Linked DNA regions of Homo sapiens: region 2 is linked to region 1. The links come from fine-mapping of genetic effects on plasma protein levels. A gene starts in region 1. The other region holds a variant in brackets. All regions are shown on one strand. Distances are between the middles of the regions. Region 1 holds the start of PIK3AP1 (phosphoinositide-3-kinase adaptor protein 1). Region 2 overlaps PIK3AP1 (phosphoinositide-3-kinase adaptor protein 1).

Evidence for each region. PIP is the posterior inclusion probability: the model's chance that the variant is causal. Protein levels are from antibody-based Olink assays in UK Biobank. Linkage for the fine-mapping came from a reference panel and not from the study's own genotypes, which makes the PIPs less certain.
Region 2: its variant is fine-mapped to the plasma level of the PIK3AP1 protein (UK Biobank, PIP above 0.99). The variant lies in the coding sequence of PIK3AP1. If it changes the protein, the assay may bind it differently, which can mimic a change of level.

Annotation. Positions count from the first base shown.
Region 1 is chr10:96,716,688-96,722,024 of GRCh38, reverse strand. It overlaps PIK3AP1 (phosphoinositide-3-kinase adaptor protein 1), which reads left to right and starts at 1,511. Exons shown (of 17, transcript NM_152309.3): 1 at 1,511-1,643. The coding sequence starts at 1,631. RefSeq lists enhancers at 920-1,029, 1,880-1,989 and silencers at 1,150-1,449, 1,500-1,749.
Region 2 is chr10:96,617,436-96,622,807 of GRCh38, reverse strand. PIK3AP1 (phosphoinositide-3-kinase adaptor protein 1) reads left to right here. Exons shown (of 17, transcript NM_152309.3): 12 at 2,251-2,456. It also overlaps the pseudogene RNA5SP324 and the pseudogene RPS2P36. Among named protein-coding and RNA genes, the nearest start is that of TM9SF3, 33 kb to the right of the region's middle. RefSeq lists a silencer at 170-391. The variant A/G (reference allele first, on the strand shown) is at 2,428.

The DNA of each region.
Region 1 (5,337 bases):
TACAGGCGCCCGCCACTACGCCCGGCTAATTTTTTGTATTTTTAGTAGCGACGGGGTTTCACCGTTTTAGCTGGGATGGTCTCGATCTCCTGACCTCGTGATCCGCCCGCCTCGGCCTCCCAAAGTGCTGGGATTACAGGCGTGAGCCACCGCGCCCGGCCACTAGGATCCTTAAAACTGGAAGAGGGAGACAGAAGAGAGTCAGAGAAAGGGATATGATGACAGAAGCAGGGCCATCTGGCTTTGAAGATAGAACAAGGAGGCCATGAGCCAAGGAATGTGGATGGCTTCTAGAAGCTGAAAGAGCCAAGGAAATTGATTCCCTTCTATTTGGCAGAAAGAAACCCAGCCCAGCCACCACCTTGATTTTAGCCGATGGAGACTCATGTCACACTTCTGAGCTACAGAACTGTAAAATGATAAGTTGGTGTTGTTTTAAGCCACTAAATTTGTAGTAATTTATTATGGCAACAGAAGAAAATGAATGCACGGCCTCATCCTGATATTCCCGTTCTTAAATCCATTTCATTTTATTTCCACCTGGACTTCAGCCCTAACCTTGCCTCATCTCTGCTCTCTGGGTCCATCTTCTGGCCCCTGGATTGTTGAGAACTCCAAGGGGATGTGCTATTCAGTTGAATTTCGGCAGCAGGCAAAGGGAGGAGTCCAAGAAGAGGGCAGGTGAAGGCAAGGGTTAAGCAAGAGTTCTAGCTCTGGAAGCAGACTGGCTTGGTACTGAACCTCCGGGAGCTTTTGTTCTCTGTGGAAGCCTGAGCAAGGTATTTGGCTTGTTTCTTTGGCTCCAATGTAAAGACAGTGATAGGTGCTACCTCAGAAGGTTGCTGTGAGGATGCAATGCGATAATGTGTGTAAGGTGCTAAACGCAGCGCCCAGCAGACAGGAACACAGGAAATGAATGGCAGAGAAACTCTATTAGACATTTATCATGTGACATTATAATTAATGTTCATGTGCCATCAGGAGACCAGATCCAAGGAACGGCAGAAAGATCACAGGAGGGCACTCAAGGGCAACGCCGAGCACCCAGGGCCAGGTGCCCAGCCCTCCTCCTCTTCCCCTTCCTGTCCCCTCCCCTTTCCTGCTGGGGCAGCAGGGGCTTAGGGACAAAGCCCCAGGCGATGAGGAGGTGGCTTGGACAGCTGGTGCTCACACACACACACACCCCCGCCCTGTCTCCCAGAGGCCTGGCAGCCCCACACTCTCCCCCTCCGCCTCCTCCCCACACCCCCTCCACCTCGGGCTGCCCTTTGGTGGCAGATCAGGGCTGGTTTCCCGAGGAGTGGGGCGCACGTGGCGCGAAGCCCCCGCCTTCTCGCTGCCCCTGAGCAGGGGGCCGTGGGGGGAGCTGGCCGGCGGCCGGCATGGGGTTCTCACTTCCCCTCCCCAACGGCCGCGGGTGCAGGTGCCGCGGGCCGAGTCCCGCAGGCGGGGCGGACTCTGTGGACACGCCCTCGTGGCGAGGCCGGGCTGCCCTGAGGGAGGAAGCGCCAGAGCGGCGGCCGGTCCCGCGCGGAGCCCGGCGCCCCTCCAGCCCGAGCCAGGACGCCGCCGGCCCCGGTCCCGGCCCCGGGCACGCAGCGAGCCAGGGATGTGAGCGGCGCCCCGCGGCATGGCAGCCTCAGGTGGGTAGGCAGGCGCCGCGGGTCCCCGGGCTCCCGGCCCCTCTCTCGTACCCCGCATCCCTTGAGGCGCGCTCCCCCGCTTGCTTCTGTTTGCGTCCTCTGTGCGGGGATCTTGCCCTCTTTCTGCTCTTTTCTATGTTCCCTGTCGCAAACTTCCCACTCCAACTTTCCCACGTTTCCCGTCCCAGCCTGTGGCGCGATTCTCTTCAGCCCCTGCCTGGCCCGACCCCCTCCCACTTCTTCAGGGTCTCCTTCGCTCCCTCCACCTCTGGCCCTAGGAGTGTCTGAGCGTCGCTTCCCCTGTCCCTCCGACTCTGAAGCGAGAGGCGAGTTGAGAGAAGCGGAGGGCGGGCGATGTGGATGGTCTACAGGGCCAAACGCGTCTCCTGGGCTCCGTGGACCCACAGGGGGCGCTCAGGCAGTCCTAGGTGGTGCGGAGAGATCAGCCGGGGAGGCCCTTGGGACAGTTCCCCAAGCCCCGTTCCTCCACCCCTCCCAGGCTTTGTGTTTTGGGTCTAGAACTTTGCTAGGGATCTAGGAACACTATTCCTTGAACTTTACTTTTCCTGCGTCCTTTGCAGAACTTTGGGGAATGGGGAGAGTTGGCGGTCACTGGGTAAATGTACTCATCAAAGGGTGCCAAGCGTCTTTTCTGGCTGGTCTTGGGTTGCCTTCTGGTTCATGGGTGTACACACTTGGCAAGTCGCTCACTGACGGAGATCCAGGACAAGCCACATAATGATGATAACGGAGACAATTAATGAGTCCTTACTATTGCACTCCAATGGATACTGTGCACCTAATATGTTCTCCATGGTGGGCAGGAAACACCTAGTCTCTGCTCTCCAGGAGTTTATGGTCCTGTAGAGGAAAGCAATAAGTAAACAAGGAATTACTAGATGAGAGGAGGTAGAGTTACAGTGTTTACAAATGGGTTTACTTGTATTTTCCCAGCCCACTTTATGATGTTTTAGTAGGGATAACCTGTGAAAACAGGTTGCAGGTGCCCCTTGAAAAAGAAAATCTAGGTGGCCAGGAGAAGGCACTGTTCTTACAGGAGGTGAGCAAACACTGGAATGAAGAGCCAGCTCTCCCCAGATCCTCTGAGGGTCTGGTAAGGGTGCTTCGGAAGCAGAGGTAGAAAAGGCCAGGAGTGATTGTTCCATGTACTACAGGCTCATTAAAGGGGATGGGAAGGTAGTTAATCACAGCCTCCTGGCTCTCCAGCTGGGCTCTGGAGGCTAAAAGAAGCTGTGTTGTGAATAAGGAGGCCTAGTAATAGCAGGTAATATACACTTAATAAGGAAAATCTCTGGTATGACATGTGTTATGGGAAAACGATAAAGAAGGGTGAGGGAGACTGGGGTTAGGATTTTCAAATGAGGTGGCCAGGGTGGAGAAAGGCACATTTGAGCCAAGATTTCCAGGGGGAGGAGGCTCTTTGGGGAAGAGTGCTCCAAGCAATGAGTGTATGTGGTGCGTTAAAGGAAAGGGAGTAGGCCAGAGTGGCTGGAGTAGGTGGGCTGTGGGGGAGAGGGAGATGAGGCCAGATAATAAACCAGTGAAGCCGCCTCCTCCTTCCATGGTCAGGAACAGGCCCTGGGCTGCTGAGTCCAGGAAACCGCAAACTGGGAGGGCCTTTGGGTGGAAGAGTCTGAGAAAATGGCCTCTCTTTTCCTCTTTTCCAGCGTCCTGTGTACCTCTCTCCAGTGGACACAGCCGAAGGAGCTAGGAAGGCGAGCTCCAGTTCAGAGGGGGACCCTAGTCCGGTGGGCAAACCTGGGGCTATTTATGGGCTCTGTAGCAGCTTCTGCAGGTGTTTGTAATGGTTAGAGCTGTCAAACTGTCTTGCTGTCTGCGTCTTCTGTGGCGAGACACCACTCCAGGTGCTGTAATTGAGAGTTGGGTCTCTGGAGTCCCTCGGGTTCCCTGAGGTTTGGAAGTACAAGGACCCATGGGGGAAGATCACAGTGGTGAGAGCAATGCCGCTCGCCAAGGTGCTGTGGGCTTTGGAGTCATCCAGCCACCCTTCTGTATGTTCTTCTTTTCTTTTAAAAGCAGCTTTATTGTGATATAATTCACATGCCATACAATTCATCCATTTAAAGCATACAATTCAGTGGTTTTTAGTATCTTTACAGATATGTGTAGCCATCACCACAGTCAATTTTGGGACATTTTCATCACCTCAGAAAGAAACCTTGTATGCTTTAGGTATCAACCTTTTATTCTCCTCTCCTCTCCCAGCCCTAAGATCTACTTTGCCTCTATAGATTTCTCTACTCTGGGCTTGTATATGAATGGAATCACATAGTATGTGGTCTTTGGTGACTGGCTTCCTTTGTACAGCATAATATTTTCAAAGTTCATCCCACTGTAGCTTATATCAGTACTTCGTTCCTTTTTATGGCCTAATTCTTAAATTCCCTTCCACTGAAGGGGAAGCATTAGTCTATATTGTTTTCTGAAAGATGTCTGCTTGTTGAAATCCAGGAGAAGTTAGGCTCCCTGTCTTTGAAAGGACCTTGGGTAGGAAGATAAAATGAAATGGACTTGGCCTATTCCACAAAATTCTCTAGGCCCCTGATGGCATCTTGTGTATTTACACGTGAGAGAGAGGAAAGAGAGGATCCGTGAGTGACTTTCCCAAGTGGCCAAGTCTGTGGCTGGGTGAAGAAAGACTAGTACTCTCTCCTCTGTGTATCAGCTCTCATACCGTCTCTTGCCCCCTCTCTCCAAGGCTCTTCTCTTTAGATCCTTCTACTATTCCTGGACTTACAGGACCATGGAGCTTGAAGGGACTTTTAACCTTTTTGTGACCTTAACTTCCATGTGATCCTTGAGGCCTCTCAATACTCTTGCCAGTACCTAAATTTGAACAACTTCTGGGGTGGGAAGCTCCTGATATGATTGACCACATCTCTCCTTATCCTGGTCACCTTCCCTATCTCTCATCCCTCTTCAAATATGGTGTTCAGATTCAAACATGGGGCTCCAGGATGGATGAATGGGGTGCCAGAGTCACCTATAGGCTGAAGAAATGGTCTGGGCTGGGTGGTTTGAGAAGCTTTCTGGCACTTCCTGTCTGTACTTCTCTCCAGTGAGTTTTTTTTTTTTTTTTTTTGAGACGGAGTCTCACTCTGTCACCCAGGCTGGAGTGCAGTGACACGATCTTGGCTCACTGCAAACTCTGCCTCCCAGGTTGAAGTGATTCTCGTGCCTCAGCCTCCCGAGTAGCTGGGATTACAGGTGCCCACCACCATACTCAGCTAATTTTTGTATTTTTAGTAGAGACAGGGTTTCACCATGCCAGGCTGGTCTTGAACTCCTGGCCTCAAGTGATCTGCCCTCCTTAGCCTCCCAAAGTGCTGGGATTACAGGTGTGAGCCACCACGCTCGGCCCTCCATTGGGCTCTGAATCCTGCAAAGGCACCTCTCTTTCAGCCCCAGCTTTTCACCCCATGGACTCCCTGCTGCTACAGCCTCCCCTTCCTCTGCTGTGATCCATTTCTTTCTCCTTCTGTAGCCAAACCTGTTCTTGACGTTTTACGAGGACAAAGAAAGACCCTTCCTCATTTCTTTCTAGGGCTTGTAGACTCCTTGTTAGCTCATGTGTTTCATTTCTCTTAATAAATGAACAAGCAAAAAAAAAGAGAGATGTGATTGAGGATAAGTGGAAAAGCTACTTATGGTT
Region 2 (5,372 bases), 99 kb after region 1:
GTGCTCTTTTCTCTTGATTAATTTCCTTGTGCTAAACAGAAACACTCAGTATTATCCCATTGAGGATTCTTTTGAAAAGTAGCCATGACACCATCTAAGCATTTGAAGGCATCCCCCAAAGGGCTCTGGTAGTAGGAAACTGGAACTGGTTGGCTTGTGCATTTTGTTTTTTCCTCCACTGTGTCTCCCAATACCATTAAAGAGAGCCTTGACAAGGGCAGACCTGGGAGAAGGATGTGTGGGTGTGTGCGGACAGATAAGTGAATGGTTGGGCAGAATGATAGATAAACGTCTCTGAGGCTTTTTCAGTACTCACCGGTGCAGCCATTTCTCTTTTTTCTTCATGTTATGTCCCTGAGTCACAATGCCCAAATGGAGTCCTGCTGGAGAAATTTAGATCCAAATAGCCTTGTATGAATTGAGTGAAACGTCAAGTTGCCTCAGTGGCCCCATGGTCGCTGCGAGTAGCTCATTCCCCACAGAACTGAAGTCACAGCCTGTAGAGAGATGAGGGTTGGCTTCATATTTCTCCAGAAGCTCCAAAGCAGAGAACTGTGAATTTGTAATGTAGAAGAGAGGTTGGCACAGGAACAACCCAAGGGTAGCCAGCTGGAAGCCAGCACCTACTTTATACCTGATGCTGTTGGGCCTGTGTCAGGATTCCACTGATGTTCCAGTCTCCTGGGGCATTTCATGCCCATGGGTCCACAATCACTGTGCCTCATGCTGCTTAGAGACAGTGAGGGATGAGAGTGGGGCTAAGAGAAGCATCCTGGCTAAACTCTTCCAGTGTATTCTCTTCTGGGTATGGATTTAAGTCTAAAGCAGTGGTTCTCAATTGGAAGTGATTTTGTACCCCCTCCCTAAAGAACATTTGGCAATATAAGGGAATTTTGGTTGTCACAACTCAAGAAGGGGGTGCTGCTAGCATTTAATGGGTAGAAGCCAGGGATGCTGCTGAACATCCTACAATACACAGGACACACCCACACAGTAAGGAATTACCTGGCCCAAAATGTCAATAGTGCCAAGGTTGAGAAATACTTGTCTAAAGGCGTCTCAATAATTAAGGCTTGGCTGCTTCTTCAAGAAAACACCAAATGGTGGATGATGCTGATGCAGTGGGAGGGCCTGGGGGTCCTGGAATGGCAGGCTGCGATGGCCTCCCTGGAGGCTTTGGCAGTGACATCAGGCCAAGGTTGTGGCTGTGGCTGGGGCCAAGGCTCTGGAGCTCATAGAGGTAAGTCTGAGAACAAGGAGTCGACGCCTATCACTAAGTTAAACCATCTGGCCAAAGATGTGAAGATCAAGTCCTGGGAGAGCTGTCTTCTCTCTGCCCATCAAGGTGTCTGAGATCATTGACCTTTTCCTGGAGTCGTCTCTCAAGAATGGGGTTCTGAAGATTATGCTGGCACAGAAGTTGACCCATGCTGGCCATTTCACCAGGTTCAAGGTGTTTGTTGCCTTTGAGGACTACAATGGCCATGTTGTCTGGGTATTAAGCACTCCAAGGGGGTAGCCACTACCATCCAACGGGCCATCATCCCAGCCAAGCTCTCCATTGGACCCGCACAGAGAGGCTACAGGGGGAACAAGATCAGCAAGCCCCACACCAGCCTTTGCAACGTGACAGGCCACTGGCTCTGTGCTGGTGTGTGTGCCTCATCCCTGCCCCCAGGGGCACTAAGCATCATCTTGGCCTCTGTGCCCAAGAAGCTGCTGCTGATGGCTGCTACGCCTTGGCCAGGGACCGCACTGCCACCCTGGGCCACCTTTGATGCCATCTCTAAGACTGCTAGCAACTGGATCCCTGACCTCTGGAAAGAGACTGTATTCACCAAGTTTCCCTACCAGGAATTCACTGACCATCTCTCAAGACCCACACCAGAGTCTCTAAGCAGAAGACGCAGGTTCCAGCTGTGGCTACAACGTACGGTTTTCTTACCAGAAAAATGAAATGAATGAAGCCTGTTAAAAATAATAATAATAGTTAAGACTTGGGAGAGTCAGCAGATTTCACGCCTCCCTTAAATGTTGCAGCCTTGTCTACTTCAGTGTGATAGGCCTTGGAATTATTAGCTGCATTCTTCTCCCCTGATTTTATGTTGTATCTCCCCCTTCTTGGCCACATGTAATTGTTCTTTTGAGAAGAGTCCTCTTGAGCCTGTGACCAGCCTCATTAACCGTACACTTCTGGTGAGTGGTCCCCAGTGGGGGAGCTGTCAAGCTGAGTTTTGCCATCCTTTCCAGGGCCGCCCGTCAGACCATGGAGGGACAGGCCCCAGTCGAGTATATATGACCCTTTTGCGGGAATGAAAACGCCAGGCCAGCGGCAGCTTATCACCCTCCAGGAGCAGGTGAAGCTGGGCATTGTCAACGTGGATGAGGCTGTGCTCCACTTCAAAGAGTGGCAGCTCAACCAGAAGA[A/G]ACGATCGGAGTCCTTTCGTTTCCAGCAGGTAACTAGCTTCGTATGGAATTTGTTTCATGTCTATTTCCCCACTTGACAGTAGAGGAGGGCTGGGCCATGGCTGTCTTGTGTATTGCTGTACCTGGACACCTGTGGCTGTGCCTGCGAATGTTTGAGTTTCATTGTGAACCAGTGAGTGTGTATGAGTGTCACCTCGGTCTGTAACCACATGGCTCCCTGGCTGAGAGCTGGGTAGCTTTTCCAGGTACCATGAGGCTTGAGATCAGGAACAAAGACTCAACTACAAACACTAACTCTGCTGCTGTGTCTCTCTGCATTTGGCTCCCTGCTTCTGCTTTCCAGCTTTTTTCTTTTCAGAGTCTCTCTCTCTCTATTCCTACTGCCAAATACCCTCATAACTATCACACTTTATGACTCAAAGAGAACTTGGAAAACTCCCAAGAAATATGATTAAATGAACAAAACAAGTTGCAGATACAAAACCACCCAAATTAAAACAACTCAGACACGTCCACACACAAACTCTGTATTTCTATGGACATGTATATAAATGCAAGGACAAAGATCTGGAAACGGCCACTTCGGGCCCATTCCAGGGGCCACCTCTCAGGAGAAGACTGGGATTGGAGGACTGGGGTGTCAGAGGAGACTCTTGCTCTACCTGTATAGTTTGAAGCTTTTATGAGAATATATAACTCCATACCTGTATCATAAGTGTACATGATGTATAATTAAAAACAAAAAAAGAACTCAAACTTAACCTTAGGAAGCTCATTCTTAGTCCACCAATGCCTTTGTATTAAAAAGGAGGAAATGGGGCTCAGGAGGTTAAGGGACACGTCCAAGGCATCTTTCCTAGTGAGGGGCCGAGTCAGGACTGGAACTATTGCTTTCTCTCTCCACCTCCCCAGGCTGCTTCCTTCAAAGTACTAGCCAGGCCCGACCCTGCTTACCCTCAGAGATCAGATGGGATTGGGCGCGTTCAGGGTGTTATGGCTATAGACCCTGGTGGTGTGTATTCTAATCTCTGTTCTTACGCTATCTGACATACCAGCTGTCAAGGCGGGGAGTAAGCAGCACCCGTCCAGGGCTGAGATAGGAGCCTGTCTTCTGGGACAGGATTAGTGGTGAAGAGTGGGGAAGCATGTCATCAGGCCGCATTTGCTGACCTCCGACAGTGCTATGTTAGGCATTGTGCTCAGCGTTAAATAGACCTGATCTCTTTCACTCCTCATACACGCATATGAAATAAGTATTACTCCTCCTGTTCTACAGAAAACTGAGGCTCAGAGAGGCGAAGAGGCAGTCAAGGTTCAAACCTCCCCTTTCTCACCCCAGAGCCTGTGCTCCCTTCACTATGCCTTCTGCCTTTTTAGTGCTCCTTAAGACAGGGGCACCTGCTCTGCCAGCTGCCTCCCTCCCTTTTGGGGCCTGAAGGGTGGGAGGGCACTCTGGAGAGCTGAATGCAGGAATCACGGGTGCTTTTCACTCAGGAGCCCCTGGGAGGCTGCAGTCCTGCTGAGAAAAGGCTGGCCCTGGCTAAACAATGTTTTTTTGCTCCTTGCCAAGTTGTGCAACCACGTGGCACAGTAGTTAAGAACAGCCAGGGCTCTAGAGCTGGCAGCCTGAATTTACATCTTTATTCTGCTATTTGATGACCTTGACCTTGCTGTGCCTCATATGAAAGGGGAGGACTAGGTGATATAAGCTACTGTAAGCAGCATAACTGGTACGTAGTAAATACATAATAAATGTTAGCTCTCTTTCTTTTTTTCTTTTTTTTTTTTTTTACATTTTCTTGTAGTGTAAGGTAATTGCTAATATGAGGTATAATCTGTAAGCAATTAATACAAATATAAATAGGTATAAGCCACCACTAACTCAGTCTGCTGGAAAGCTTCTCAGCTAAAGTAGTTTGAGGATAAGGTTAAGGGAAATGAGAAGGGGTGGACAGGGCAGGTTTCCAGTGGGAACATAATTTACGTGTCTTATCATTACCATCATCCTGTATGTACCAGTCCATTGTTGCAGAAAGGTAAATCCTTTCCAAGTATGGTTTTTTTGTTATCGTTGTTGTTGTTATACTTTAAGTTCTAGGGTACATGTGCACAACGTGCAGGTTTTTTACATAGGTATACATGTGCCATGTCTTTCTGTGTTTCTATCCAAGAGACCTCTTCCCTTCCCATGAGCTGGTCCAGAACTCTTGGGCATAGCAGACGACGGGTTTATATTTAATACGGCAGAATCCCAGCTCATGGGGGCTCACATTGTTTGGTTCCCTGAGAGCCTCTAGCCACTTCCTGAGCATCTCCCCTTCAGGGGCTGGTGGTGTGGAGACATTCCTGGGTGGAGGCCTCATCTTCCTTTTCCTCTGCCTCTCTGTCCACTCCTCTGTCTCCTTCACGTCACCCTCTCACAATGGACATTGAAGCTTTCCTTCAGCTCCTTCTCTGTGCAGTCTGTGTCTCCAGTTCCATGTTTCCAGCCCCAGTTGGCTTTGTCCCCCTGAGTGCCCCAGGCTCACAGCATGTCTAACAACAAACCATCCCTCAAGGCCGCTTTCCTTTCCCAACAGCCTCTCTGTGCTCATCACAGAGGAGAGGGAGATCAGACCTCAGAGTCTCTTTGGCCTTCTCCCGTGCTTCCGCTCACCCAGTCAGCGGTGTGTCCTGCTTGGTCCTGCTCTGCGGCATTTGTCCTCTTGCATCTGCTCCTGTCTCTCCATTCCCCCAGCCACATCCCCATGTCAGCTTCTGTTGCCTGCATCTGGCATACTCCATAGTCTCCAGGAAGGTCTGCTGGCCTCTGTTCCTTCTTCTCTAGTTCACTAGAACCTTAAATCCATGACAAGCTCACAGTGTTCAGTGTTTCCCTGCTGTCTCCTGGACACAGGTGAGTCTCTTCAGCCTGCAGCTGCAGACCAACCCCCCTTTCCAGTTTG